4 separate regions of the Homo sapiens genome follow, and all the other regions are linked to region 1. Evidence: fine-mapped expression QTL. A gene starts in region 1. Each other region holds a variant in brackets. All regions are shown on one strand. Distances are between the middles of the regions.

Region 1 (8,289 bases):
CACTACAACTTTCATTCTGTATATATTCTGGATATATTTATTTATTGTGGATATAAATATTCATTCTGTGTGTTTTTATTCTCTTGACAGTGTCCTTTGATGCACAAAAATGTTTAATTTTTATTATGTCCAATTTTTCTTTGGTTGCTTGTGCTTTTAGAAACATATCTGAGAAATCATTTCCAATTCCAAGGTCATGAATATTACCTTTATGGTTTCTTTTAAGGTTTTAATAATTTTAGCTTTTATATTTAGGTCTTTAATTCATTTTGAGTTAATTTTTATATGTGATGTAAAATAAGGATTCAACTTCATTCTTCTGCATGTGACTATCTAGTTCTTTTAGCACCTATGTTGAAAAAACTGGTCATTCTCCATTGGATGGTCCTGCCACCCTTGTTGAATATCAGTTGTCCATGAATGTGAGAGTTTACTTCCTGACTCTCAATTTTATTCTATTGATCCATATAGTTATTCTTATGCTGATACCACACTATTTTGATTTCTGTAGTTTTATAGTAGGTTTTGAAATTGAAAAGTGTGACTCCTCCAAGATTGTTTTGCATATTCAATGTCCCTCGAGATTCCATATGAATTTGAGAATCAGCTTTTCCATTTCTGCAGAAAAAGGCTGTTGGGATTTTGATAGGGATTATATTGACCCTATAAATCAGTCTCACTTTGAGAGTACCGCTGTCTTATTAAATCCTCCAACTTATGAAAACAAGGTGGTTTTTCATTTATTAAGGTCTTCTAAATTTCTTTCAACAGTGTTTTGTAGTTTTCATTGTAAAGTCATGCATCTCCTTAGTTTATTCCAAAATATTTTATTTTTGATACTATTGCAAATTAAATTGTTTTCTTAATTTCCTTATTGGAGTATTATCAGTACTATAGAGTTACGTATGTTGATCTTGTATCCTGCAGGTTTGCTGAATTTGTATATTAACTCTAATAGTTGCTTTTTGTAGATCTTTTAGGATTTATCTATATATAGGATCATGTCATCTGTGAACAGAGATAGTTTTACTTCTTCTTTTTTAATTTGGATGCCTTCTGTTTCTTTTTCTTCCTGATTGCTCTGGCTAGGACTTCCAGTACTATGTTGAACAGAAGTGGCGAGAACAGGCATCTTTGTCTTGTTCCTGATGTAAAGGGACCAGCTCTCAGTCTTTTACCATTGAATTAGTTGTGCTTTTTCACATGTGCCCTTAATCACGTTGAGGCTGTTCCCTTTTATTGCTAGTTTGTTGGGTGGGTTTTGTTTTGTTTTGTTTTTAATGAAAGCATGTTGGGTTTTACAGTTACATCAAGTGACATGATCATATGAGGATTTTTTTCATTCTATTAATGTGATGTATTACCCTGATTTTCATGTGTTAAACCACTGTTGTATTTCTTGGACAAATCCCACTTCATCATGGTATATAATCATTTTAATATGCTGTTAGATTTGGTTTGCTGGTGGCTGGGTGCAGTGGCTCACGCCTGTAATCCCAACACTTTGGGAGGCCAAGATGGGCAGACTGCTTGAGGTCAGGAGTTCAAGACTAGCCTGGCCAACATGGTGAAACCCTGTCTCTACTAAAAATACAAAAATTAGCTGGGCATGGTGGCGCATGCCTGTAATCCCAGCTACTCGGGAGTTTGAGGCACGAGAATAGCTTGAACGCGGGAGGCAGAGGTTGCAGTGAGCCGAGATTGCTCCACTGCACTCCAGCCTGAGTGACAGAGTGAGACCCTGTCTCAAAAAAGAAAGAAAGAAAGAAAAAAAAAAAAAGATTTGGTTTGCTAGTACATTTTTGAAAATTTTTGCTTTCTATATTCATGCATTTGTATTGGTCTGTAGTTATCTTTTCTGGCAATGTCTTGGTCTAGCTTTGGTACCAGAAAAATGCTGGCTTCATAGAATGAGTTGAAAAGGATTGGTATTAATTCTTCTTTAAATGTTTGGGAGAATTCACCAGTGAAGCCATCTGGTCCTGGGCTTTGCTTTGTCGGGAGGTTTTTGATTACTGATTAAATTTCTTTTCTTGTTATAGGTTTATTTGGATTTTCTTTTTCTTCTTGAGTCAGCTTTGATTGACATTCATGATTGCTAAAGGTTCAAAACACTTTTCTGAAAAAGAAAGTACATATATACACTCATAAATATACATACAAACACACACATACACACCACACACACACCTGAGTACACGGGAATGATCATTTTCCTGGATCAATGTTATATCAGGATTTTTCAATTTCAAGAAGGAACTTTAGGCTGGGTATAGTGGCTCATACCTATAATCCCAGTACTTTGGGAAGCCAAGGTATGCGAATCACTTGAGCTCAGGGGTTTGAGACCAGCCTGGACAACATGGTGAAACCCCATGTCTACCAAAAATACAGAAATTTGCTAGGAATGGTGGCACATGCCCCTGTAGTCCCAACTACTCAGGAGGATGAGGTAGGAGGATGGCTTGAGTCCGGGAGGTGGAGGTTGCAGTGAGCCGAGATCACACTACTGCACTCCAGCCTGGGTGACAGAACCAAACCCTGTCTCAGAAAAAAAAAAAGAAAAAAAGAAGAAGAAATGACCATGTTCTTTAGAGATAAGAAGTAAAATACTAAGCGAATCAACTAAAAGAGGTAAAAGCAATTGCCTCCAGGAAAAGAGGGAGCAAAGGAATGCTATATATTTTAAGAATTATGCAGAACAATTAGATTCTTTGTAAAAATAAATAAACAATGTAAGTAACGCACAAAAGATAGTTTTATAACCAGACTGCTGGGATCCAAATCCTATCTCCACCATTTGGTAGCTGTTTGACTATGGACAAGCTTAAGGCATTTGATCTCTCTGAGCTTTAGTTTTCCCATCTGTGAAATGAGAATGACAATAGTACTTACCTACATAAAGTTTTGCAGTACTAAAGGAGACAGTGAATGTAAAAGGTTTGGCTAGTAAATGTCCTGTAAAAGGAAGCTTATTGCCAATATTATCAGGCTCTCCCAGACCAACCTGTATACAGGAAGAAAACAAACTCCGTTTCTCCTATAGTCTCACAACACAAAATACTTCTGACCCCAGATGTAGAGGATGGGGCATATTTCCCCATACACCAAGCAATCAACCAATTGTTCAGATTCTGCAGCAGACACGAATCTGGTGCCCTCCGATTCAATTTGAACACTATATTTACCTAGAGATAACGTCAGATCTCACAGCTTGAAGGCTTGAGCCAGGAGTTTGAGGCTGCAGTGAGCTATGATCGAGCCACAGAGCTCCAGCCTGGGCAACAGAGTGAAACTGCGTCTCTAAAATAATAATAATAAATTTTTAAAAGATATGCATTACTTTGGAGATTCCAAGGATTTTAGGAGTTGTAAGCCAGGACATCAGGGTAAAGAAAAAATATATATGTCACAATATCATGCAACCTAACTTCTCTTTGGGATCTGCCAGAGCCACCTGATCACTCTGAAGACCCTCATTTGTGCTACTGACTAACGGTCTGGCTGCTCTTGGACATGTCTCTTCTCCCAAGACCCCTTGAAGATGGCTTTAGAAGGGCCCCAAACTTAGCTAGCTCCCCCCAAGCTCAGGCTGGCCCTGCCCCAGACTGCGACCCCTCCCTCTTGGGTTCAAGGCTTTGTTTTCTTCTTAAAGACCCAAGATTTCCAAACTCTGTGGTTGCCTTGCCTAGCTAAAAGGGGAAGAAGAGGATCAGCCCAAGGAGGAGGAAGAGGAAAACAAGACAAACAGCCAGTGCAGAGGAGAGGAACGTGTGTCCAGTGTCCCGATCCCTGCGGAGCTAGTAGCTGAGAGCTCTGTGCCCTGGGCACCTTGCAGCCCTGCACCTGCCTGCCACTTCCCCACCGAGGCCATGGGCCCAGGAGTTCTGCTGCTCCTGCTGGTGGCCACAGCTTGGCATGGTAAGAGCAGAACGGGGGGTGGGGGACTTTGTTGGGGTGTGATGGAGAAGACCCCTGTGAAAGGATTCAGTCCTTGCCCCTCACTGGGTGTCCTCAGGCTGTTTTAGTCTCCCCAACACTGGACTGCAGGCTTGTGGGTATCTGCTTTGGAGAGGTAGTGGGGTGAAAAGAGATGGGTGTGGTGGAACTGGTCCACCTGGTGCTGTGGATCTGTCCCAGCTCTGCCAGCGACTCACTGTGTGTCCTGAGCAAGCCTCTGATACTCTTGAGGCTTCAGTGTCCACTTCTATTCAATTGCAGGTGTTGGGGGCAGGGGGACAGTGATAGACTAGACCAGAGCAGTGCTTTTCATACTTTCCTGTGCATACAAGTTACCTGAGGATTTTGTTACAATGCAGATTCAGACTCAGTCGGTCTCAGGTGCGACCTGAGATTCTGTATATCCAACACACTCCTGGGAGATGTGAGATGCCGGCACTGCTGGTCCAGACCTACACTGAGTTGGGAGGACCTGGAGAGCTCCTGATGGCTCTGGCAGCTCTGCCAGCCTGTGATTCGATGATTCTATGCAAGATCTGATTTGGAAGGGCCTGATAGGGGTGGTGGTTCTTCCTTGGGTGGCTTGTGTAAGGGGTCAGAGGGGAGAGACAAGAGGTTGGCCTCTCTGGCCCAGGGCTCAGGAGAGGGGAATTCGGGGTGAAATAGGTATAGGGCTAGAGGAGGGATTGGGAAGAGGCCAGTGAGGGTCTCCTGGACCAGAGCCCTCCCAGACACAGGCTGCCAAGTCTCAGGAGGTCCCCAGGCTGTAGCAGTTCTGCAGAATTTCCATCTGGGAGGGAACATGACTAGAGGTGAGGGGCTGCTGTGCTTGGCTTGTTGGCCCAACAAACACATTTCTATTGCCTGCTTATTCAAAGGGACCTTGGGGGAGGATGGGGATTGAAGGGGAGAAAGGACAGCCTCATACTGGCCTCTTCACAGAAGGACCCTAAGGCCGTGGCGCTTCTGGTCCCTGATGAGGAGGAGATGGCCCACTGACCATCCTTCTCTGGCCCAGGCAATCACACTGAGCTTGAGTATTTGGGTTTTTTTTTTTTTTTTCCTGAGACAGAGTCTCTCTCTGTCACCAGGCTGGAGTACAGTGGCACAATCTCGGCTCACTGCAACCTCCACCTCCCGGGTTCAAGTGTTTCTCCTGTCTCAGCCTCCCAAGCTGGGATTACAGGCATACACCATCATGACTGGCTAATTTTTGTATTTTTAGTAGAGATGGGATTTCACCATGTTGGCCAAGCTGGTCTCGAACTCCTGACCTCAGGTGATCCACCTGCCTTGGCCTCCCAAAGTGTTGGGATTACTGGTGTGAGTCACGGCGCCCGGCCTGGACTTCTTATTTTGCAATGTAACTTACATGCAGTAGAAAGCACAGGTTCTTAAGTTCAATGAGGTCTGACAAATGCACACACAGTGTACCCGCCACCCCCTTCATCTCAGAGAGTCCCACAGGTTTGATTTCACTGCCTTGTCCTATCCTTACACCCACAACCTGCCTGTGGGGCAAAAACGGAAAAGTATCTGAGCCAGGTCTCAATTTAATTTTATTTTTTTTATTGAGATGGAGTCTTGTGGCCAGGCATGGTGGCTCACACCTGTAATCCCAGCACTCTGGGAGGCCGAGGCGGGTGGATCACAAGATCAGGAGTTTCAGACCAGCCTCGCCAATATGGTGAAGCCCCCTCTCTACTAAAAAATACAAAAATTAGCCGGGTGTGGTGGTGGGTTCCTGTAGTTCCAGCTACTCAGGAGGCTGAGGTGGGAGAATCACTTGAACCCGGGAGGCAGAGGTTGCAGTGAGCTGAGATCATGCCACTGCACTCCAGCCTAGGCGACAGAGCAAGACTCCATCTCCTTCCTTTCTTTCTTCCTTCCTTCCTTCCTTCCTTCCTTCCTTCCTTCCTTCCTTCCTTCCTTCCTTCCTTCCTTCCTTCTTTCTTTCTTTCTTTCTTTCTTTCTTTCTTTCTTTCTTTCTTTCTTTTTTCTATCTTTTTGAGACCGAGTCTTGCTCTGTTGCCCAGGCTGGAGTGCAATGGCATGGATCTCGGCTCACTGCAACCTCCGCCTCCGGGGTTCAAGCAATTCTGCCACTCCTGAGTAGCTGTGATTACTGGTGCCTGCCACCACACCCAGCTAATTTTTTTATTTTTGGTAGAGACAGGGTTTTATCATGCTGGCCATGCTGGTCTCGAACTCCTGAACTCAAGCGATCCCCCTGCCTTGGCGTCCCAAAGTGCTGGGATTACAGGCATGAGCCACTGTGCCTGGCTTCAATCAATTTAGAAGTTTATTTTGCCAAGGTTAAGGACATGCTGGCGAGAAAAAAACATGGAGTCACAAAAACATTCTGTGGTCTGTGCCATTCTGGATGAATTCGAGGGCTTTAATATTTAAAGGGGAAAGTGGGCTGGAGGGGAAAAGGGGAGGTTGTGGTAATCCACATGTTGCAAAAGAAAAGCAGCAGGTAGGGGAACAGTCAATTATCTCGGTTCAGTAAATTGGCTCTTTACATAGGGAAAGTGAACATAGAGGAGCTGCCTGTGGGATATTTTACCTTTTATCTGTCGCTATCTGCTTAGGAATAAAAGGCAAGGCAGCTTCTTGCATGACTCAGTTTCCAGCTTGATTTTTCCTTTTGGCAGAGTGAATTAGGGTCCCAAGTTTTTATTTTCCCTTCACAGGGGCATGGTGTGTGGGAGGGGGGCCAGATGGTTTTCCAGGGTCCAGTCCCAAGAGAAAGAAGAGATGGGGAGGCTGGAAACCTAAGTTTTCAGCCCAACAGACCAATGATGAGTGGATGAGGGGCCACTGTGAGGAGACTGGGGATGGTATTGGAGGACCCTAGAGAGAGAGGGGGGCTCTCTCTTCATTACTGCGATGAGATCCTGGGCTGAAGAGGGGCTGTGTCCAGCCTTAGTGTGCAGTGTGTGTGTGTGTGTGTGTGTGTGTGTGTGTGTGTGTGTGTGTGTGTGTGTTGGGAGAGAAGAGTAGAGATTGGGGCACATTCTGGAAGTGATGAGGGAGGGGCTTCCAGGCAAGTGGGAGCTAGTGGAGAGGTGTGGGGCATGGGGAGAATTGGGGAGTGGAGATGAGAGGGGGGAAGAATGGACAGGCACAGAAGGGGACCTCAGTTAATGTTCATAAGCCCATGCCCCCACCCCGAGGAGGATGGGGGCCAAGCCGGCTTCCTTCCCTGCTAGCCAAGCCAGCAGGGGAAGTTGGCTGCGGAAGTTGCGGGTATCAGCCTTATCCTGCGTGAATACCTGGGACAATAGGATAGGACAAAATAGGGCAGACACCGCTCCCTGACCACATTTCCTGGAGGCCAAGGCAGGGTCTAGAGAGACAGGCTGGGGGAAGGGATGGGAGAAGCCCACTGTAAGGTGTGAGGCAGGTGTAAAAAAGGAACAAATGGAATCACAGAATCCAAGGTTAAAATCTTGAGCGATCAGAGTTGGCCCAGAAGGGACATTAGAAATGTAGCAATTAAAGCAGGTGCCCAGGGCAGGAGTAGTTCTATACATCATCTCACTCAACCTTCAGCTGAAGTTTTTGGGGTGGGAGCTGGGATTATTCCCATCAGACAGAAGAATAGCCTGAGGCTCAAAGAGGTTAAGAAACTAACCCAGCTGGTAAGGGAAGAACCAAGATCCAAACCCAAGTTGGTGTGAGCCCACACTCCAAGCTGTTTCCTGCTATAAAACCCCGGCCTGGGGGCCCTAGATTGCTGCAGCAGTGATAGGGCAGCCCCAGCTCTGTTGAGATTTGCTAAAAAGGCTGCTAGAAATGACACTTGTCCCTCTTCCTGGCAGTTGCACTGCATAGGAGGGCTACAACCCCAGGTGGCAGGCTTGGCAGTATTCACAATTCACTCAATCTCGTTTGCTGATCAGAGTCTTGGGGAGAAGGGATGCACATTCTGATGAATACAAAATCAAAACGTGAATTAAGCCATCCTGAAAGGACTTGAGAGAGGAAACCTTTCCAATTCTGGGCTCTATGGTGGGGCAGGGGGAATTTCCATTTCAAGGGGGTTTGCAGAGAACAATGGAGATACCCTGAATTCACCGAAAGCCCTCGGGGCTGGCCTGTCATTGTGCCCCCATCACTGGGAAGAGGAAGGGCCAGAGCTGAGGAGTTGGATGGCCAGGGTCAGCCAGTGGGTCAGCGTCAGAGCCCAGCCTCACAGCTGCCCCGCAAGTGGCACTCCCTCTCCCTGCCTGGAGAGAGGAGAGTGGCTAGGAGGCTGGGGAAGCAGAAGTGAGAACATCCCTGTAGAAGGGCCACAGGCTGAGCGGAAACCGGGGGCTGAGC
Region 2 (6,554 bases), 22 kb after region 1:
TGTCCTATTAGCCAAAGCCACAATTTAGTGCATGTTGCGTATAGTGTGCTTCCTGTCACTGTCTGCTCAGTATATGACAGTGATTTGAGGGGCATTTTTCTATAGCATGTTACCTACATCATCTCATTTAATGCCCTCAGCAACCACTGTATGCAGCTAGCATTAGTCTGTTTTACAGAGTTGTAAACTGAGGTTCTGAGAGGTTGGGACAGTTGCCCTTGTCTACAGCTGGTCAAAGGCAGAGTCTGGTTTTTAACCCTGAAGGAGGACTCACTCCAAAGCATGTCCCAATCATTATGTGAAACATTGACTCATCTTATTTTACCCTCACAAGAAGCTGGAGGCAGGAAGTATACTAGTCAGTATCTTACCCATCAGGAAGCTGAGGCTCAGCAAGGTTAAAAAAAAAAACCCCAAGGGGCTGAGGGATAGGGTTGGCACTGGGCCCCAGGGGCTTCTGTCCCTAGAGCCCATGGCCTCCACTGCCTGCCTGCCCACACAAAGACCATGTGCAATGTGATCAGAAGCTGAGAGGACCAGGCCAGAGGGCTGTGGGAGTTCAGAGGTGGACGGACTTTTCAGGCTGGTGGGTAAGGGAGACTGCCTGGAGGAGGTGGCTTGGCATTGGTGGGACGGGCTTTGGAGGATGAGGATGCAGCAGGGGAGATGACACTAAGGGAAAGGGTACCTCTGGGGGAGAGGGCAGAGTGTGCAGAGGTGCAGGTGAGGGAAGGACCAGGGTGGGGTTGGGGGTCTGAAGGGTTGGACCCCACCCTGTCGGTCCAAGGCCATCAGTGGGTTTGAACAAGGGAGTGGTGTGATCAAGGACTGAATGACCCATCTTGTGTCCCCTTGGCTACCTTTTCTTCCCCACACCCCCTTGGGGCTTTTGTGAGAAGAGGGCTTGAAGTGGGCAGGGTGGGAAGGATGTTGGGGGAGCCCCAGGGGCACATGGATCGGGATCTCTACTCCTGCCAGCACTCAGCATGAGAAGGCTGCTCTGAGGGCAGCCCCGGTCAATACCTCCGGATCTAGGTCCAGCTCTGACACTGTTTTGCCATGTAACCTCAGCTGACTCGCTGTCCTCTCTGGGCCTTAGTTTCCCCTCTTATACCATGGGTCTGGGTGTTCTCTAACAGCCCCTCCTCCTCTGACATGCCAAGAGCCCACTGGTGGTCTAGTTTAAGCACCAGAAACTTGGACTTCAGTGAATCTGGGTCCAAATCCTGCCTCTGCCAAGCTCTGGCTATGGGATGATGAGAAAGTTGGTGTGTCTGAGTCTCTTCTCCATTTGTAAAATGGGATCATTAACAGCCTGTTGTGAGGGATTCCGTACCACAACGCACATAGAGGACTGAGCGGGGTGCTGGACGAGACAGTCTCTGTGATGGGAGCTGCACACTCTTGTCCCAGGAGGAAGTTCGTTGGGGAACCAGAGTTAGCTCATGCCTCTTGGGATGGTGGAAGGAGGGGGAGGTCTGAGGTCGGGCATCATCTCCTTGACTACACACCCAAAGCGGTTGTTTGGCCCAGCCCACCCACCTCCAGGGACAGGACCTTACTCACTCTCGGGGCCACCTGTTCCTTCTCTGAGCAGCTCCAATGTTTGCAAAGTTCTTCCTTACATGGAACTGAAAACTGCCTCGCAGTGCCCACAGAGCTGCCAGGACAGTCATGCAGAGATTCCAGAGAAGAGCCTAGGGCCCCCTGCGGCCCTTTCTGCCTTGGGCTGGCCAGCCCCCTTGGCTGTGGTTTAGGAACTCTGTATCCCCTCTCCACGGGACCATTTTTGGAACATGTCACCTCCACACTTCCTGTCCAGGAAATTCAGCTGCCCCTGGAGCCCATGCAAGGCTGCGAGAAGACTTGCAGCTACCCTCCTCCCCTACACCCATTCACAGACCCTTTAGCTCCAGGCCGAGGTGTCCACCCATGGGAGCGGAGGGGGCAGGATGGTCATGCCCGTGCTAAGTGCCTGCCCTCCCATCCTCCTCTGCCTTGCCCCATGAGGTTCGGAGCCTTGCCCCTTCACTGGGGACTCAGCCCAGCCTCTCCTCATTGCCCAGGCCTGGGGAAAGAAGTGGCCTGTCTGTGGGGAGTGTTTGTTCTGCCTCAGGGCTGAATCATCACCTTTCTGTCCCCCAGAGTGACCACAAGGGGGGCCGTGGGGGAAGAGAAAAGGGCAGGAGTCAGCAGGCTCCCCTGGAGGAGGAGGCGCACAGGGAAATGGCTGAGGCAGCAGGGAAGGGAGGGTCCAGGGAGGCTGCTGGAAAGACTACGATTCTGGGGGCTGGAACTGAGCTCTGAGGAGCAACAGGAGGGTCCCCAAAGATTCCACTGGGAATTGTTCAGATCTCCACCTTCCTGGGATGGAGAACATCCACTCACCCAGAACCAGCAGGCCTAGATGGGGAGGGGACCGGGACTTTGTCTCCATGCCCCCTTTGGTGGGGAGGATGGGAGGAAGGGAAGAAGTCAGGGGGTGGGCCTGGGGCTTAGGCCCATTGCAAGGAATGAATGGGGTGATGTGCTTCAAGCATCTAGCCCAGCGCCCCACTCCCAGGAAGAGCTCAGGAAGAACCCGCTGCCATCATGACAATTACGTCCACCCTTCTCAGGGAGCCTCGCCCATCCCCACCTCTTGATCTCTCACTCATAGTTCTTTGGAAGAGAGGCTGCCTCTGGGTAGACGCCCATGAGCCCTTTCCAGGGATGGCACAGGTGCCCTGGGAGGTTTACATGCCCAGCAGGGGCAGGGGAGGGTTCCTGAGGCAGGCAGAAGGCAGCTTGGTCCGCTTCCAGAAATTAGGAGCCTAGGATTCAGAAATCTGAGAATCCAGCCAAACCTCCATCCTCCTTGATCCCCTCCCTTTCAACAGTGCCCCCTGCCCAGCTGGGGGCAGGGAGGGGCTGACTCAGCCCAGCTGCAGAGGGACAGAGGAACAAGAAGTGGTAAGAAAAAACAGTCTTAGCCACAGAGGCTCCTAGAGATGGAAGTGGCCAGGAGAGGCTGAAGAATCCCCTCCTTGCCTTGTTGCTGTCTTTTGGGCTGGGAAGGCACCCACGGGCAGGATTTGGATCCTCAGAGGCTTGGGAAGTTCTTCTCCCTGGGTCCCGTTTCAGACTCTCTCCCAAGCTATAACGCAGAGGCTCTGAAGTTCACCTGCAGTCCGCCCTTCCGAATCAGAGCCTGGAAGTTAGTTCCTTCTCATTTCTAATTGCAGTCTTTTCTCTCTAACTACCAGCTAGAAGTTCTTCCTGATGGTTAGCTGGAAGCTTTCTCCCTGTCTCTCTCTTTAAAAATGTCCACATTTTATTTTTGATTCAGGGGATAGACGTACAGGTTTGTTGCATGCGTATGTTTCGTGATGCTGAGCTTTGGAATATGGATCCCATCACCTGCTACTGAGCATAGCTCCCATAGTTTTTCAACCCTCGCCCGCTTCCACCCTCCCTGCTCTAGTAGCCCCCAGTGTCTGTTGGTGCCATCTTTATGCCCATGCACACTCAATATTTAGCTCCCACTTATAAGTGAGAACATGCGGTATGTAGGTTTTCTGTTTCGGTGTTAATTTGCTTAGGATAATGGCCTTCAGCTGCACCACGTTGCTGCAAAGGACATGACTGGAATCTTCTCTCTCAACCAGGACTTGCAGCTAAAGGCCAGCCTCCTCCCTAGCACCGGTCCACACTTCCTTTAAGTTTCTAGCTCGGGTGCCCAGGGAAGGAGCCCAGCTGCAGGCACAGCCAAGCTTGTCCCATCCCCAAGGCCTGGCCGGAAAGAGTTGCTCTGCTGACCCAGGGCCTCAGTGTCCTCCACCGCCCCAGCCCAGCTTCCACTTTCCCCCTCAACTTGGTCTTCCATCAGCATTTCTTGTGGGCAACCCTTAGCATGGTACTCCCC[C/G]TCAGCAGCTGACCCCTGGGCAAGAAACAGGGGCAGCCATTCCTCCTCCCCACATCCCAGGGCTTGCCTCCCCTGGCTGGGTGGTAACAGCATGGAGAGCCTAAGGAAGGAAATCAGGTCTTTCCAAAGGTGCTGGTCCTCCAGAATCTATCTAGTGGGCAGCGTCTCTCTTTCTCTCTCAAAAAGGTAAAGTCAAGGCTGGGTGCGATGGCTCACGCCTATAATCCCAGCACTTTGAGAGGCCAAGGCAGAAGGATTGCTTGAGCCCAGGAGTTTGAGCCTAGTGAGCTATGATCGTGCCACTGCACTCCGGCATGAGTGAAGGAGCAAGACTCTGTCTCAAAAAAAAAAAGTCAGATGGCGACTCACCTGTGTCAAACTCTCAGGGTCTCTCACTGCCCGGCCAGGCATGGTAGCTCATGCCTGTAATCCCAGCACTTTGAGAGACCGAGGCAGGCAAACTGCTTGAGCTCACGAGTTCAAGACCAGCCTAGGCTGCGACAAAGCCCCGTCTCTACAAAAATTAGCCAGGTGTGGTGCCACATGCTTGTAGTCCCGGCTGCTTGGGAGACTGAGGTGGGAGGATTGCTTGAACCTCGGGGGTCGAGGCTGTAGTGAGCCAAGACTGCCCCCACTGCATGCCAGTCTGGGGGACAGAGATCCTGTCTTGGAAAAAAAAAAATCCCAAAAGGGAACCCACTCACCTTATCATAGCCCTCAAGGCCTTCCTGTTTCTGGAATCTGCCCCCCACTTCCCTCAAGCCATGATGGCTGCCTTCCTATAGCTCAAACTTGCCAGGATCATTCCCATGTCAAGCATACAGCATTTCCATGCACTGTTCCTGGAAAATTCTTCCTCTGATGGTCACATGGTGGGCTCTTTAGGGGCCTTCCCTGACTTATCTTACTTTATTTTCTTCATAGCACCACTTGAGAATCTCCTAGATACATGTTTATTTGCGTTTAATGCCTCTCTCAGCCACTAGAATGCAAACTCCATGGAGGGGCAGGGACTTTGTCCTGTTCAACTCTGAATCAGCGGTGCCTGACACAAATAGATGTTCAAGAAAGTATGTGGATGGGCTACTATTATTCAGCCTTAAAAAGGAAGGGAATTCTGACCTGTGCTGCAGCATGAATGAACCTTGAAGACATTATGCTGGGTGAAATAAGGCAATCTCAATAGACACATGCTGTGTGAGTCCACTGAGGTGCAGTGCCTAGAGCAGTGCAATTCACAGAGACAGCAGAATCATGGTTGCCAGGGGCTGGAGGAGGGAAAGGGGAGTTGCTTTTTAACAGGAACAGAATTTCAGTTTTGCAAGATGAAAAGAGCTCTGGAAACTGGTTGCACAAGGTAGAATGTAATTTACTTAATACTACTGAACCATACACTTAAAAATGGTTGAAATGGTAAATTTCATGTATGTTTTATCACAATTAAAATATATATATATATTTGGATGGGAGGTTGGGTGGGTGGATGGATGGGTAGATGGATGGACAGATGAACGGATGGATAAGATCTCAAGTTCCACCCTCCCTCCTGGCTCAGGAATTACCAGATTATCAGAGATATCAGGGCCCTCAGAGGTTGTCTTGTCCAAGGTCTTCAATACACAAATAGTGAAACAGGCTTGGAGAAGGGAAGGTCACACAACAAGGCAGAGTCAAGCAGGAACATGCTCTCAGTGCTATGTTCATGAGACGACCTCTCTCAGCCCAGAGCAGGCCTTGCCCTGCCTTCTCCCACTGGGCGCCTTGGGACTGCCCACACCCCTGCTCTTGGGGGTCAGAAACAAGGTCCAGGAACTGCCTGCCAGCCCCGACTGCCACGTGCTCCCTTCCTCTTCTGCAGAAGCCCAAGTACCAGGTCCGCTGGAAGATCATCGAGAGCTATGAGGGCAACAGTTATACTTTCATCGACCCCACGCAGCTGCCTTACAACGAGAAGTGGGAGTTCCCCCGGAACAACCTGCAGTTTGGTGAGATGGCAGCTCATCACTCCACAGCTTCCTATCACAGGGCCTGTGGGGGTTGCAGGGAGCCCATGGGCCCTTGGACAGAGGCCCTTTGGTGCCCAGGGACTTAAGGGACCTGTGTGCGTGGCAGGTAAGACCCTCGGAGCTGGAGCCTTTGGGAAGGTGGTGGAGGCCACGGCCTTTGGTCTGGGCAAGGAGGATGCTGTCCTGAAGGTGGCTGTGAAGATGCTGAAGTGTGAGTGAGGGGAGGGGATGAGGGAAGGGATGGGGGGTGGTAGATGCTGGGGGTGGGCTGGCCCTGGTGTCACAAGAGGCATCACACACATTTCAACCTGTTGAAGCCTGGGGGACAGAGCTCAGGGGTGAGGACTTGGGTTTTCTTGTGAGCTCCAGGCACCCTCTGACTCCCGGCTCCAAGAAGGTCTAGGTCACCCTTTAGTTGTGAAGGGGCTCCTGACTGAGCTCCAAAAAGTCTGGGGGTGCAGAAAGGCCACCTATGGCCATGGCCTGGCCACAGTTTGGCTTCCTGTCACCTGAAGACCAGCTCAGTGACAGGCTCATCCCTCCTCTCTCTCTCTCTGCCATCTGTGTGTCTGCATTTTTCCTTCTCCTTCTTTTGGCTTCTGGTCACTCCGGGTCTTGGGGTATGCCCTGCTTTCTCCCCTGGG
Region 3 (6,143 bases), 35 kb before region 1:
GCAGCTGCTTATTGTGAGATTTGGGATTTTCCTCAGCATTATGCAACCAAAATAAAATACAGAAGTATGTTGGGTACATAGACTTATTCACGTTTGCAATGATCGCTCATTTCAACATTTTCGTTTGTGTAGATATCTTCAAGTTCTCACTGATTGACTTTAAGTAAATGCATTGTAGTTGAATTTAACTACTAAAGTGATCGTTGTAAACAGTGGCCTTTATCTGCTTTCTATACTGGGCTCCAAAGTAAGCTTTAGTTTGAAAACATATCAATAAGAGCCAACACTGCGAGCTCGCCACGTGCCCAGCCAATAAAGACATCATCTCATTAATCCTCATGACAGTGCTTTGTGGTGGGTTTAATTAGCCCCACTTAACAGCTGGGGAAGGTAAGGCTCAGGGAGACTAAGTACCTTGCTCTCCACCACAGAGGCAGGAAAAGAATCCAGATTTGCAAGGCACTAAAGCCTCCTAGCCGTCATGCCAAAGTGTCTCTCCCACATCCAGCCCCTGATTAGCCTCATGGCCTTGAAGGGACGCCTGAGGCCTCCATAGGGACTGTCCCTGAGCCTGTCCCTCTGCAGGACCCATCTATATCATCACTGAGTACTGCCGCTACGGAGACCTGGTGGACTACCTGCACCGCAACAAACACACCTTCCTGCAGCACCACTCCGACAAGCGCCGCCCGCCCAGCGCGGAGCTCTACAGCAATGCTCTGCCCGTTGGGCTCCCCCTGCCCAGGTACCAGGAGGGAGGCCAGGGACTGAATCTTTGGGATACCTGAGGAGCACCGCTCCTTCCCCTCCTTTTGTCCAGGAGGGGAAGCTGAGGCTGTGACAGGGCAGGGGACAGAATCACTCCTGGAGCTAGGGCTGTTCCACAAGATGGTCCACCCCAGATGAGGGAATAACACTAATGCCAGGCCCTGTGCTGCTAAGCCCTCTACAGATGTGACATGCCATCCCTGTGTCGTGGGTGTTTGCCCTTCAGTCCAGGGCAGGCAGTGATGGAGGAAGGGGCAGAGGCTGTGGTGAGATGAGAGCCAAGCCTCCCAATTTGCACAGTGGTGCTCCAGGCTGTGTTCCTCTCTGCAGCCTCTACACATCAGCCTCCACACTGCCTCTCAGGGAGCTCAACTCCAGTCTTTGTCTTTTCCAAAAAGAACACTTCTTAGTTCTGTTGCTGATTACAAAAACAAAGACAAGAGTAGCTTCAGAAAAGCGTAAAAGACCTTAAAACCCACTCATGTCCTCTCCAATGTTTTGACATTCAGTCTCCCAGGAGCCAAAGGGCTTCTCCCATCTTTTTCCTGCCTATAGAGACAGATGTGTGTAGAGCCCCACAGCTCTTTGGGGAGCTGATGCTACAGGCATAGGTAGCGGGGTGAATCCTGGCTGCCTATGCTGGGTTGCAGTCAGGCACTCCCATGGCCAGGTGGCGCTGGGGAGGCCACAGGAAGGCGCCTCTGAACACACCCGTCTTGTGACCTTTGCCCTGGGGTGCTGTAATCGCCTCTGGGTGTGAGCTCTCTGGGTTCTAACTGTCATTTTGGTAGCCTCAGTGCCCAGCTTGGCCCAGCAGGTTGGTTGAAAAGTCTTGATCCACAGGCTTTCCTACTGGGATAGACTGAAGGAAGATGAGTGAGTGTGTGAGTGAGAGAAGAAATTCATGAGTGGCAAGGGGCAGGAGGGGAGGGGAAGGCAAAGCCTGCAGGCTCTCCTGTGATGCTCCTTTACCCCCAGCCATGTGTCCTTGACCGGGGAGAGCGACGGTGGCTACATGGACATGAGCAAGGACGAGTCGGTGGACTATGTGCCCATGCTGGACATGAAAGGAGACGTCAAATATGCAGACATCGAGTCCTCCAACTACATGGCCCCTTACGATAACTACGTTCCCTCTGGTGGGTGGACATAGTGACATAGTACCCCACATCCAAACAGGCTGATGCTCTTCACATGCCCAGCCTTGCCAAAAACCCTGAGAAGAAGGGAGCCTCGTGCCCATTTCATAGATGTAGAAATTGAGGCTAGCCACCTGGCCAAAACTGATCTGTAGTGGACCCCTAAACGGAAGCCCTGTTTATGGATCCGGAAACATGCGTAGAACCCTCAGGGAGGGAGAGAGCAGGGATATGGGAGGACCTGGCCTTTTGTCGTGGTAGGGAAAGTGATCTACTCAGCTTCAGCCCCAGGCTGGTCTAGTGTCCCTGAGAGGCAGGCAGGCAGGCCAGGCTGGGCAAAAGTGGCCCAAGGGCTAATGCCAAAAGGCCAATGAGGGCACTGATAAAGCAGGAGAACTTTGAGTTTGATATTAAGAAATCATTCTCCTTTTAGGGGAGACCTAGACGATCAGTAGCCACCTGTCTTGGACATTCAGTCTCCCAGGAGCCAAAGGGCAGGGGTCCTGTGGGCCAGAAGGAGATATAAGATAGCAGGTGACCCTCTGCTTCTCCTCTAGCCCCTGAGAGGACCTGCCGAGCAACTTTGATCAACGAGTCTCCAGTGCTAAGCTACATGGACCTCGTGGGCTTCAGCTACCAGGTGGCCAATGGCATGGAGTTTCTGGCCTCCAAGAACGTACGTGTGGTGTTGGTGGGGCAGAGTGGGGGCTGTGGGGAGGTGGGTCACCCAGCCAGCCAGCATCCTCCAAGAGCACACCAGGGTGGCCTCTCGCACATGGGCAGTGTTGTATTTTCCCAAAGCCCTTGACATGAAGGGTCTTTCCCCACAATTGTCCCCAAGGCCTCAGCTCCCCTCTCCCCAAACCCAGTGCGTCCACAGAGACCTGGCGGCTAGGAACGTGCTCATCTGTGAAGGCAAGCTGGTCAAGATCTGTGACTTTGGCCTGGCTCGAGACATCATGCGGGACTCGAATTACATCTCCAAAGGCAGCGTGAGTACCTTCCCTGGCCCCTGCAGGGCAGTCACAGTGCCTGTGACCGCAGGAACAGATTCCCTCCTGACCAGTGTGGCTGCAGCTCATAGGAAATCTGTGTGGGGCTCCTTGTGGCCTGCCCTGACAGCAGTGATGGGCTGTGCCTGCCCAGCTATGTGTGCAGGGACAGGATGGGGAGCCGCCCAGGAGTGCATGGAGCAAGTATAGCGGC[G/A]GGGAGGGCTGGCTATAATGGGTCCAGGGTGGGGGAAGGGGGAACAGGCCGAATGTGTTGTTCCAGTGGTGGTGGGCAGAGGAAGAAGCCCAGGTGACAGGGCAAGAAAGATGAGCAGGTCACATGCAGTAGCAGGGATTGGTCTGGTTAAAACGTGATCATCCTGCCTGTCTCTCATCTCCCCACTTTTCCGCAAACCCCAGATGGAGGGACGCTAGGCCCAGAGATCAAAGGCAGCCAGGATAAGAGCTTGGGGGGTGCCTTGACAAGTCCCTGGCTCCCACACTTCACTACTCAGACCCTGGGGCTTTTCCCCAGGGACAGGGGCTGCCTTGTCCCCAGCTAGTGAGAAAGGAAACAGCCTCTGGTCCTCTGACCAGCCCTGGGATGGACATGGGAACTGTGCTGCGCAGAGACCAGGGCCCTCACAGGGAATGGGACGGAGAAGTGGTTGTGGGTGGGAGCTGCCAGATACCCTCCTCCCATCCCAGGTGCAGAGTGGGGCTGAGGTCCTTCCTTGCACTCAGCACCTGTCCTGACCTCCCTACAGACCTTTTTGCCTTTAAAGTGGATGGCTCCGGAGAGCATCTTCAACAGCCTCTACACCACCCTGAGCGACGTGTGGTCCTTCGGGATCCTGCTCTGGGAGATCTTCACCTTGGGTATGCTTGCTTCCTCCTCCAGCCCTCAGCATCCTGGCCTGGTGTCTACCTCGACCACTCATGCCTCTGGCCTGGTGGGGCTATGGGACGAGCCCTGATACAGGGATCCTGGTTCAGGTCCCAGCTCTGCTACCTTCTCCCTGCTGTGTGATGTTAGCAAATTCTTTGCCCTCTCTGGGTCTCTTTATCTCCCTGTCTGAGCATTGACAGGTTTGAACAGTGACATCAGAAAGCCTGCTTGGCTCTCACATTCTGGCTGTCTATCCTGGGGAGGGTTGTGGTCTCTGTTCAGAGCCCATGAAGGAGCCCACAGTTCCAAATGCCAGGGGCACTGCCCCCTTACCCATACCAGGGCCAGCATGGCTCTCCTTGTCCTGTAGAAGAGGGTGCCCTGCCACTTTTCCACCCCTGAGCCTGTGTATCTCTTGTCTCTGCTCCCCAACAGGTGGCACCCCTTACCCAGAGCTGCCCATGAACGAGCAGTTCTACAATGCCATCAAACGGGGTTACCGCATGGCCCAGCCTGCCCATGCCTCCGACGAGATGTGAGTGGAGTCTCATGCATTTGGGAGGATTTTGTGCTGCAAACAATAGATATCCAACTCTACTGGCTTAAACCAAAGATGAGAGATTTGTTAGCTCAGAGATCTAGAAAGCCTTGGTGTAACTGGATCCAGCCATTCAAAGGATGGCATCAGGAACCTCTTGTTCTAGCCCTGAGCTCTGCTTTGCTCTGTGTGGCCTCATTTTCAGGCCAGCATTGCCCAAATGGCTACCAGCAGTGCCAGTCTCATGTCCTACTGCTTGCTCCATAGTGCCAGCAAAAGTCCCAGAGCTGACCTTCAAGGGCTCAGGTGGGGTCACATGCCATCAAGAACCAACCGTGGAAGCTGCAGGGCTGAAAACTGTTGGCGAAGGTTGGCTCCTGTGCTCACCCAGGCGTAGTCAACCTGTGGAACCATGTGGAATGGGGGCTCTGCGAGGGCCTCCCAAGGGAATATCCAGAGACAGGACCTCTGGATACACCCAGCCACCACTTCCCTCCAGCTCCTTTCCATGGCTCACCTTGTTCTGAGAGGCAGCAGCCTCCTGCTCCCCCAGCCCTGCCTTGTCCCCTGAACCCTGGGCCAGAGGCCCTGACCCTTCTCCCTATCCCCAGCTATGAGATCATGCAGAAGTGCTGGGAAGAGAAGTTTGAGATTCGGCCCCCCTTCTCCCAGCTGGTGCTGCTTCTCGAGAGACTGTTGGGCGAAGGTTACAAAAAGGTATGTTGAGGCAGGGTAGGGGTGGAGCACGGAGAGCTCTGGTGCAGAAGTCAGACACCGAGTACAAGGCTCTGCGTGATGGGCTGGCATTTAGGGGACCACCCTTTGTCCTCTCTGGGCCTCAGTTTCCCTGCTGGTTCTAGGAGGGGATGGGCTGGCGCTGTGAGTTTATTTTAGCAGCAGAGAGCTTTATGAAATGGAATCCTACATGGAAGCTGATCGATTAGATGCAGGGAGGGGGCCTAGAGCACTGTCTGTCCTGCTGCCTCCCTCAGGCCTTTACCTCCATACCGAACCGTGGGGCTCCTTCAGAAGTGTGAATAACCCCAGGTTACATGACCATGAACCGCCTGACCACTTGGATCCTGTCACAGGATTGTCCAAGGCCCAAAGAGCCAGTAGGGCCCTGAAACCCTGCCCCGTCCAACAACACGGGTCCAAGTGAGGAGGAAATACACATGGCCTTTGACACAGAGGCAGCTCCTTCTTTGGGTCCATTTCTCACCCCCACTGCCCCCCGGGGATGGTCCCAGGGACCTGGGAGATGGAGTAAGGTCATCACCACTTCACAGCAAAGGAAACTGAGGCCCTGAAGAAGGACGCTGAGGCAGCATGAGAGCCTGTGCCTGTCTGCTCTGAAGTGGGGGAAGAGTTAGAGTCCTGGGTGCTGGTCTGATAACTGCCCCTCCCTGGGTGGTCCTGAGCTCACCATGCCTTGTAAGATTCTATGTGAGGTAGGAGGGCAGCTCAACCATGTGGCTTGGGCAAATCCCTTTCCCCTCTGAGCAGCGGGGGTCTTATTTATACAAAGGGGGATGGGCTCGGTTAGAAGATCCCTGAAGGCATTTCTGGCCTGACCATCCCTGTTTCTTTGGTTCTCCCTGCCCCGGGAGCAGAAGTACCAGCAGGTGGATGAGGAGTTTCTGAGGAGTGACCACCCAGCCATCCTTCGGTCCCAGGCCCGCTTGCCTGGGTTCCATGGCCTCCGATCTCCCCTGGACACCAGCTCCGTCCTCTATACTGCCGTGCAGCCCAATGAGGGTGACAACGACTATATCATCCCCCTGCCTGACCCCAAACCCGAGGTTGCTGACGAGGGCCCA
Region 4 (8,289 bases), 26 kb before region 1:
GCCACCACGCCCGGCCAGTGTCTTCTTCTGTAAAATACAAACAGTAAAAGTACTTCTATTAGGCGGTCATTGCAAGGATTAAATGAGATAGCATACACCTTTAGGAGTGCAGAGGAGGGAGATGCTGGTGGGTGAGAAACGAGCTTTGGAGCCAGCTGACCCTGCTCCGAAGTTCCAGCTCCTGCACTTCCCTGCTGTGTGAAGTGGGGCAGTGATATAACCTCTCTGAGCCACACTTTCCTCACGGTGCAGGCCTTGCATAGTTTTCACAAGAGTTAAATGAGCCGGAGTGTGTGAAGCCTACGGTGCAGGGGTGGACACACCGAAGGCTCTTCATGACTGCTGCTGGAATCCTCCTGGGCTCCTTCCTAGCCCCTCACTCACTGCCTCTTTCCTCTAGCTCCACCCTGAATGAAGTCAACACCTCCTCAACCATCTCCTGTGACAGCCCCCTGGAGCCCCAGGACGAACCAGAGCCAGAGCCCCAGCTTGAGCTCCAGGTGGAGCCGGAGCCAGAGCTGGAACAGTTGCCGGATTCGGGGTGCCCTGCGCCTCGGGCGGAAGCAGAGGATAGCTTCCTGTAGGGGGCTGGCCCCTACCCTGCCCTGCCTGAAGCTCCCCCCCTGCCAGCACCCAGCATCTCCTGGCCTGGCCTGACCGGGCTTCCTGTCAGCCAGGCTGCCCTTATCAGCTGTCCCCTTCTGGAAGCTTTCTGCTCCTGACGTGTTGTGCCCCAAACCCTGGGGCTGGCTTAGGAGGCAAGAAAACTGCAGGGGCCGTGACCAGCCCTCTGCCTCCAGGGAGGCCAACTGACTCTGAGCCAGGGTTCCCCCAGGGAACTCAGTTTTCCCATATGTAAAATGGGAAAGTTAGGCTTGATGACCCAGAATCTAGGATTCTCTCCCTGGCTGACAGGTGGGGAGACCGAATCCCTCCCTGGGAAGATTCTTGGAGTTACTGAGGTGGTAAATTAACTTTTTTCTGTTCAGCCAGCTACCCCTCAAGGAATCATAGCTCTCTCCTCGCACTTTTATCCACCCAGGAGCTAGGGAAGAGACCCTAGCCTCCCTGGCTGCTGGCTGAGCTAGGGCCTAGCCTTGAGCAGTGTTGCCTCATCCAGAAGAAAGCCAGTCTCCTCCCTATGATGCCAGTCCCTGCGTTCCCTGGCCCGAGCTGGTCTGGGGCCATTAGGCAGCCTAATTAATGCTGGAGGCTGAGCCAAGTACAGGACACCCCCAGCCTGCAGCCCTTGCCCAGGGCACTTGGAGCACACGCAGCCATAGCAAGTGCCTGTGTCCCTGTCCTTCAGGCCCATCAGTCCTGGGGCTTTTTCTTTATCACCCTCAGTCTTAATCCATCCACCAGAGTCTAGAAGGCCAGACGGGCCCCGCATCTGTGATGAGAATGTAAATGTGCCAGTGTGGAGTGGCCACGTGTGTGTGCCAGTATATGGCCCTGGCTCTGCATTGGACCTGCTATGAGGCTTTGGAGGAATCCCTCACCCTCTCTGGGCCTCAGTTTCCCCTTCAAAAAATGAATAAGTCGGACTTATTAACTCTGAGTGCCTTGCCAGCACTAACATTCTAGAGTATTCCAGGTGGTTGCACATTTGTCCAGATGAAGCAAGGCCATATACCCTAAACTTCCATCCTGGGGGTCAGCTGGGCTCCTGGGAGATTCCAGATCACACATCACACTCTGGGGACTCAGGAACCATGCCCCTTCCCCAGGCCCCCAGCAAGTCTCAAGAACACAGCTGCACAGGCCTTGACTTAGAGTGACAGCCGGTGTCCTGGAAAGCCCCCAGCAGCTGCCCCAGGGACATGGGAAGACCACGGGACCTCTTTCACTACCCACGATGACCTCCGGGGGTATCCTGGGCAAAAGGGACAAAGAGGGCAAATGAGATCACCTCCTGCAGCCCACCACTCCAGCACCTGTGCCGAGGTCTGCGTCGAAGACAGAATGGACAGTGAGGACAGTTATGTCTTGTAAAAGACAAGAAGCTTCAGATGGGTACCCCAAGAAGGATGTGAGAGGTGGGCGCTTTGGAGGTTTGCCCCTCACCCACCAGCTGCCCCATCCCTGAGGCAGCGCTCCATGGGGGTATGGTTTTGTCACTGCCCAGACCTAGCAGTGACATCTCATTGTCCCCAGCCCAGTGGGCATTGGAGGTGCCAGGGGAGTCAGGGTTGTAGCCAAGACGCCCCCGCACGGGGAGGGTTGGGAAGGGGGTGCAGGAAGCTCAACCCCTCTGGGCACCAACCCTGCATTGCAGGTTGGCACCTTACTTCCCTGGGATCCCCAGAGTTGGTCCAAGGAGGGAGAGTGGGTTCTCAATACGGTACCAAAGATATAATCACCTAGGTTTACAAATATTTTTAGGACTCACGTTAACTCACATTTATACAGCAGAAATGCTATTTTGTATGCTGTTGAGTTTTTCTATCTGTGTACTTTTTTTTAAGGGAAAGATTTTAATATTAAACCTGGTGCTTCTCACTCACAGACTTTGTGGTCTCTCTCGGGTTTGGGTTCCTGCCCATAGGGAGTGTGGAGTGGGGCACATGAGGCTCACCCAGACGCAGACCCCCAGACAGGTCCCTTCAGCTCTGAGTCTCATTTCATTCATCTGTAAAGTGGGGATTTTCGCTCTCCCACCCCTCGCTGGAAGCTGGGGGGCCTAGACCTTGGGCTTGGTTTCCCAAGGTGGGAAGCGAGCAGGCTTTTCTGGCTCCACAGAGCCTGGCCTTGAGTCGGGCAGGAGGGTGTGGGGCTGCAGGGCTGCTCCAAGGCTCTGGTGCTGAGGCGTCTCACTGCCTCCACCATGTGCTTTGGCTTTGGCTATCAGCTGGGACACCCTCCCCTCCACTCCGCCCACAGGCCCGGATTGAGGCCGGCGTGCTCTGTGACAGGCAGCTGCTAGAGCCCAGATTCCAGGTCCAGGTGAGTCATGATCAGGCCCCAGGTAGGAGAAGGGCAGACAGAGTGTCCAAAAGCGTGAGAGCACGAAGTGAGGAGAAGGTGGAGAAGAGAGAAGAGGAAGAGGAAGAGGAAGAGAGGAAGCGGAGGGAACTGCGGCCAGGGTAAGGACAGGGGAGGGAATAGGGTGGCGACCAGGCTGTGGCTTTGAGGGCAGAG[A/G]GGTGTAGACCTGGCAGGACCCAGACCCCTCACGGCTGCAGCATCTCAGGGGTTGTGGGGCCGGCATGAGTCATAGGCTCTCCTGCCGAGCCCAGGCCTGTGGGACCCCGGCAGCAACACAGGGCCAGGGGCAATAGGGTTGCTGGGGGCAGGGGACAGAGTGCTAGGGCCCTCCCACCTGGGCCCAGAGTCCTGTACTTGGCTCACTTGAGGTGGACCAGATGTCAGCCTCAGATCCATCACTGTGTGTCCTTAGCCCCTCCCTTGCTCTCTCTGAGCTGGGGAAACGGCATCTTCATTTGAGTGGGTGCGGGAAGGACCTCATTTTGGAACCACAGGCCTCCCTGGACTGCCTCCAGGAGTCTGGGGCTGTGGCTTCAAGTGGGGAAAAGAATGGAGCCATGGGACAGCTCTGACTCACAGGCCCAGCCGCCAACTCAGGGGCAGCTGAGCCACACCAGGGAAAATACCCGACGGCTATAAGGCCTGGCCATACAAAGCCCACCATCCCAGGGATCCTGGCTTCAGAAAACACCCAGAGCCTGTGACTTCTCTTCTAGCTGTGGCAGGAGTTGAATGAGGTGATACCCGGATCTGCCTTGTAAAGAAAATAACTAGCCCACATTCCAGACAGGGATTATCTTTGCTGGTGCAAAAGCCTCTGTCTGGAGGTCAGAAGATCTCAGCTCCCTGTGTCTCAGGCCTGCTCCTTATGGGAACTTGAGTGGATTACACCACATCAGGCCTCAGTTTCCCCAGGGATAAATGGAGCTAGATGCCACACTAAGACAAAGGTTGATAAAAATCTGACTACCACTATCCAACAGTTACTATGCCCCAGGGCTGTCTGGTTGCTTCACACACATTAGCTCATTTTACCCTCCCAAAAGCCCAGTGACCTGAGTCCTACTATTATCCCATGTTACAGATGAGACACCAGTCCAAGCTGTTGTTGTTTTGTTTGTTTTTGTTTTTCTAGTTAAAGAAGTTTATTCAAGGGCAAAGTGTGAGGGTAGTCGTCAGGAAACAGGAAAACCAGAGAATGGTGATCAGTGCTTCCCTGTGTGGGGCAAGGTGAGGATGGTTTATATAGCCAGAAACGGGTGGGTAACACAATTACATTTTCCATACAAAGGTTAACGTAGAGCTACAAGATTTGATTGGCTACTATTGACTACACTTTAAGGGGGCTGCTTAACACTCATTTGTAAAGAGGTAATGATCACCAGCGTGTCATTTAGTCCAGGTTTGAATAAAGAATGGGGAGCCCGGTTAAAGTATAACATTCTCAACACAAAAATCAAGAGGCAATGGTCAGAGAGCAGTCCTGTGATGTGACTCAGTTTCCAGGGCTTAACTTTTCCCATTGGCATAATGAATTGGGGAGCTCCTGAAATTTTATTTTATTTTCACAATTTTGATTTGCATTCAAACCAAATCAAATGTGCATTCAGGGAGGTTTTGAAGTGACTTGCCCAAGATCATCTGGTCAGTGTGGCAGGGATGGGAGAGGAGCCCAGGTCAGACTGACTCCCAAGTCAGCACTCAGGGAGGTAAAGCACCCACCCAAATTTGCAGAGCTAGGGACTGGGGAAGCCTGCGACAAAACTCCTATCTTCTGTCTCCAGACCTTCTGGTACTGTGTTTCCCCAAGAGAAAGGATAGGAAAGGACTGGATGAGAAAGGAAAGCTAACATCATCTGAGAGCTAGAGAAAAATAATAAAAACTCATTTGTGGGAGGGCTTGGGCCTCTCAGGCCCCTGTGCAGAGGGCAGGCAGGGTCTGGGGTAACCACAGGTCAGCCCCTGCTGGGCTCCTGCCTCCCAGTCTCTCCCCTCAGGCGGGCCCAGGGAAGACGGGTGAGCTGGGATTTTCCTCCCAGACAGATGAGCCACTTGGACTGCACAATTCTTCCGCCACCCCACTCACGGCCGGGGTTCTTGTTCCTGGAAAAAGAGGGAAAGACTGAAAGGAGCTATTTCTGCCGGGGCCCTGACCTGCAGCTGATGAGGGTCTCACAGCTCCCATTCACGTCCCTTCTTCTTTGAATCAGGGCACCGTCTCTAACAGGCCCCTTTTATTTTAGTTATAATGTTCGGTTTTGCAATTAAAAATTATTTTTAATGGGCATCAGGATATTTCCTTCTGTCTTTGAATATGCCTTTTGTTTCTAATTTGTGCAACTATAACTTCACGTGAACCTCATGGATTCTGGCTTAGGCAAGTGGCTTCTATGTAATTAGCAGTGATTCCATCTTAATAAGGTCCTGTGATCTGACAAAAAAAAAAAAACTACTTGATACAAGTATTTATGTCATATATGCCTGTATTTAAAAATCCATTACCAAAATACATAATATAGAAAGAGAAGGTCTTCTTTGAGTATTTTTATATGTTAAATGCAGTAACATTTTAAATCTTTATTCTCTTTATTCAGCAACTCTGTGGTACAAATTTATCTTGTTGAAATTCTGCCTCTCACTATAAATAGTTTAGTTATATTTTTCAAAGTTGTTTTCTTTATATCCATACTAATATTTGTATCTGTACCTATCTACATAGAATATAGCTATAATCTTCAACAAAACTCCCATTTGTCATTGTGCAACTTTTTGTTTTTCACTTAACAATATATCATGGGCATACTCATAGGTCCATGGGAAATACAGATATTAATGCATTCATTTTGAGAGATGCACATAGTTTAAAAGCAAGCCTGTGCCAGACATTATTTAACCAATGTCAGAAATGCAAAATGCTTGTTCCCCAGTGCCACAAAGAAATAGCACTCGAACATAAATTTAATTTCCTCAGCAAGGCAATTTTTACTTTCTGCAGAGAGGGTGCTCCTGGCAGATGGAACAATGGCGAGAGCACACCTTGACAGGGGAGGGGAAGAGGTTCTTATTCCTGACACAGGCAGCCTCTACTGCTGCATTGTTCCCCTATTGGCTAGGGTTGGACCGCATAGTCTAAGCTAATTCCAATTGGCTATTTGAAAAAAAAGAGCAGGAGCATGAGCTGGAGTGCCGGGGTGAGTAGTTTGGTGGGAAAGGTGGATACGAACAGGTGGCTCAGGATGAGTCAGGATGGAGCAGGTGACTCAGGTCAAAGCAGGTGACCAGGGGAACAGATGTGAACTGATTAGGACTGGTGGGAAAGTTGTTTACTGAAACCAGAAGCAAGGGGGCGAAGAGATCCAGGAAGTTAAACTTTAAAATGGAGAATCAAAGAATAAGAGAGCTGAACATATTGACATACTGATTCTTTGAAGAGAAACTTGGGGTTCACTATATTTAACACCAATCTCCTACTGAGGGGCATTTGGACTATTTCCCATTTTTTAGAGTTATAAGTTATGCTACAATGGCCATTATTTATAAAATATGTTTGTTTTTGCATATTTAAGTATTTGTTTCCATAGCATAAATTCCTAGACATTGAGTTGTTGAGTAAAGAGAATAAACATTTAAAATGTCACTGAAGTCTAAAAATTCCCTTTTAAGTACATATAGTGCCCTGGGCGGCTGAGAAAATCAAACATACAAACAACAGAAACAACGTTATTTAATTCTAGCTAAGTACTCTGGACTGGTGGAGGAAGTATGGACCCTCTTTGGTTTATTGAGAAAAGTCATAAGTGGGTGACAGAGAAGAGTTGAAGACAGAAATGCGCCAAGCTGAAACATTCTCCTTGGCATAACCAGAAACACCCAGAGGACTTGGCAAGGCAGGAAGCTTCCCACAGTGCCATTCAGTGCTGCTGCAGCTCTACTAATCCATCATCCCACATCTAGACAGGGCATCCCACCCGTCGGGAAACCCAGCCTTCCCTCACCGCCCTGCTCTGCCCCAGTCCCTCATGGTGTAGGGTGTGCTCCTACCAGTGGTCCCATCGGATCCTCACGATTAGCCTGTGAGAGGAGCCTCCAGATGAGGAGGTTGAGGCTCAGAGCCATCAAGTGGCTTGGCTACAGTCACTGCAGGGAGGCTCTTGCCTTCCAGCCTCCCTGCTCCTACCTTCCCCGGGGGTGTCTAGGTCCAGTTCCAGATCTCAGAGTGGCCAGCAGGCTGAGCCCTGGGGTCAGGGGCCAGCTGCCTACACAGAATGTGGCTCCTGGAATTTCTTGGGTGGTGGGGGGGGGGCGGGCTTCTCCTTGGGATGGGGTTCTGGGGCCGCTCTGGGCCATGAAAGTTTCCCACAGCTTGGAAGAAAATCTGCCACCACTGTGTAGGGGTCTGGCGAGGGACCATTGGCCTGGGGCAGGGACCTGGGGACATCACAGAAGCCGAACTGTCTCCCTGTACCACCCCCTCCCAGCTGGCTCTTCCCTCACCCACATGTTCTTGGCATACAGGTCTGCCCTCTCCAGCAGCTCCCACCCCCCACCTGCTCAGGGCTCCTCGCCTTCTCCTGCAGGGCTTCACAGCAGGCTGCCCTTGCCCAGCTCCCCTTTGCAGATCCACAGTCTCTGGTTTTAGATTTTGTGGGTCTTCACTGCAGGAACTAGAAAAGTCACAAACATGGGGAAGTAACACAGTTTCTGGAAAATCACAGAATTCTAAGTCCCTTTTTTCCCCTCTGAAGAGACAAGAGGGAAGCTTCCACATCTGAAAATTTTTCTTTTTCATTCTTGATCTTCCTGAAGCATAGTGATGGTCTTGGTGTTCCCTTGCTCAAACATCTTCAGTGGCTCCCCGTGGCCCAGCAAAGTCGAGACTCCTTCATGGAATCTTTAAGGCCCTCCCTGATCTGATTCCAACCTCTCCTACTGCCTCTCCCACATCTGCCCTCCAAGGTCCATCCACCTTGTGTGGGCCACTAGCTTCCTGACCTCTGCCCCTTTTTTTGGTGCTACCGTCACCACCTAGAATGCCCAGTCTTTTATAGCTGAAGGTCAAAGTCTTGCTCAAGCTTCCAGCCCAGCAAAAGCTACTTTCTCCAAGAAGCTTTCCTCATTCTTCAGCTGAAAATGATTTCTCTTCGCATTCCTTTGTCTGTGCCTCTTATGGGCCCTCACATCTGTTCAGCATTCTTAGCCTCCCATACCCTGTGCACTCTTACGCCTCCAGGCCTTTACTGTGCTGTTTCTCCTTCTTGGAACATTCCTTCCTCCTCCCTGTATCTCTCCCCCAACTCCTCACCC

Evidence for each region. PIP is the estimated chance that this variant, and not a neighbour inherited with it, causes the effect.
Region 2: its variant is the best candidate, but not a certain one, in a credible set for the expression of CSF1R in breast (GTEx, PIP 0.90).
Region 3: its variant is the best candidate, but not a certain one, in a credible set for the expression of CSF1R in whole blood (INTERVAL, PIP 0.78).
Region 4: its variant is the best candidate, but not a certain one, in a credible set for the expression of CSF1R in whole blood (TOPMed, PIP 0.78).

The regions. Positions count from the first base shown.
Region 1 is chr5:150,082,011-150,090,299 of GRCh38, reverse strand. It overlaps CSF1R (colony stimulating factor 1 receptor), which reads left to right and starts at 3,746. Exons shown (of 21, transcript NM_001288705.3): 1 at 3,746-3,921. The coding sequence starts at 3,873. RefSeq lists enhancers at 3,659-3,688, 8,015-8,289 and a promoter at 3,441-3,873.
Region 2 is chr5:150,061,058-150,067,611 of GRCh38, reverse strand. CSF1R (colony stimulating factor 1 receptor) reads left to right here. Exons shown (of 21, transcript NM_001288705.3): 11 at 5,763-5,889; 12 at 6,017-6,121. Among named protein-coding and RNA genes, the nearest start is that of CSF1R, 22 kb to the left of the region's middle. RefSeq lists an enhancer at 602-651 and a silencer at 2,602-2,777. The variant C/G (reference allele first, on the strand shown) is at 3,905.
Region 3 is chr5:150,117,644-150,123,786 of GRCh38, reverse strand. It overlaps PDGFRB (platelet derived growth factor receptor beta), which reads left to right. Exons shown (of 23, transcript NM_002609.4): 15 at 586-745; 16 at 1,747-1,907; 17 at 2,465-2,583; 18 at 2,777-2,899; 19 at 3,664-3,775; 20 at 4,221-4,320; 21 at 4,935-5,040; 22 at 5,937-6,143. Among named protein-coding and RNA genes, the nearest start is that of CSF1R, 34 kb to the right of the region's middle. RefSeq lists enhancers at 2,472-3,379, 5,040-5,627. The variant G/A (reference allele first, on the strand shown) is at 3,114.
Region 4 is chr5:150,108,058-150,116,346 of GRCh38, reverse strand. PDGFRB (platelet derived growth factor receptor beta) reads left to right here. Exons shown (of 23, transcript NM_002609.4): 23 at 401-2,508. The coding sequence ends at 584. It also overlaps a transcript of CSF1R not described here. Among named protein-coding and RNA genes, the nearest start is that of CSF1R, 26 kb to the right of the region's middle. RefSeq lists a promoter at 2,299-3,077, enhancers at 2,989-3,738, 4,449-4,961 and a silencer at 6,007-6,301. The variant A/G (reference allele first, on the strand shown) is at 3,142.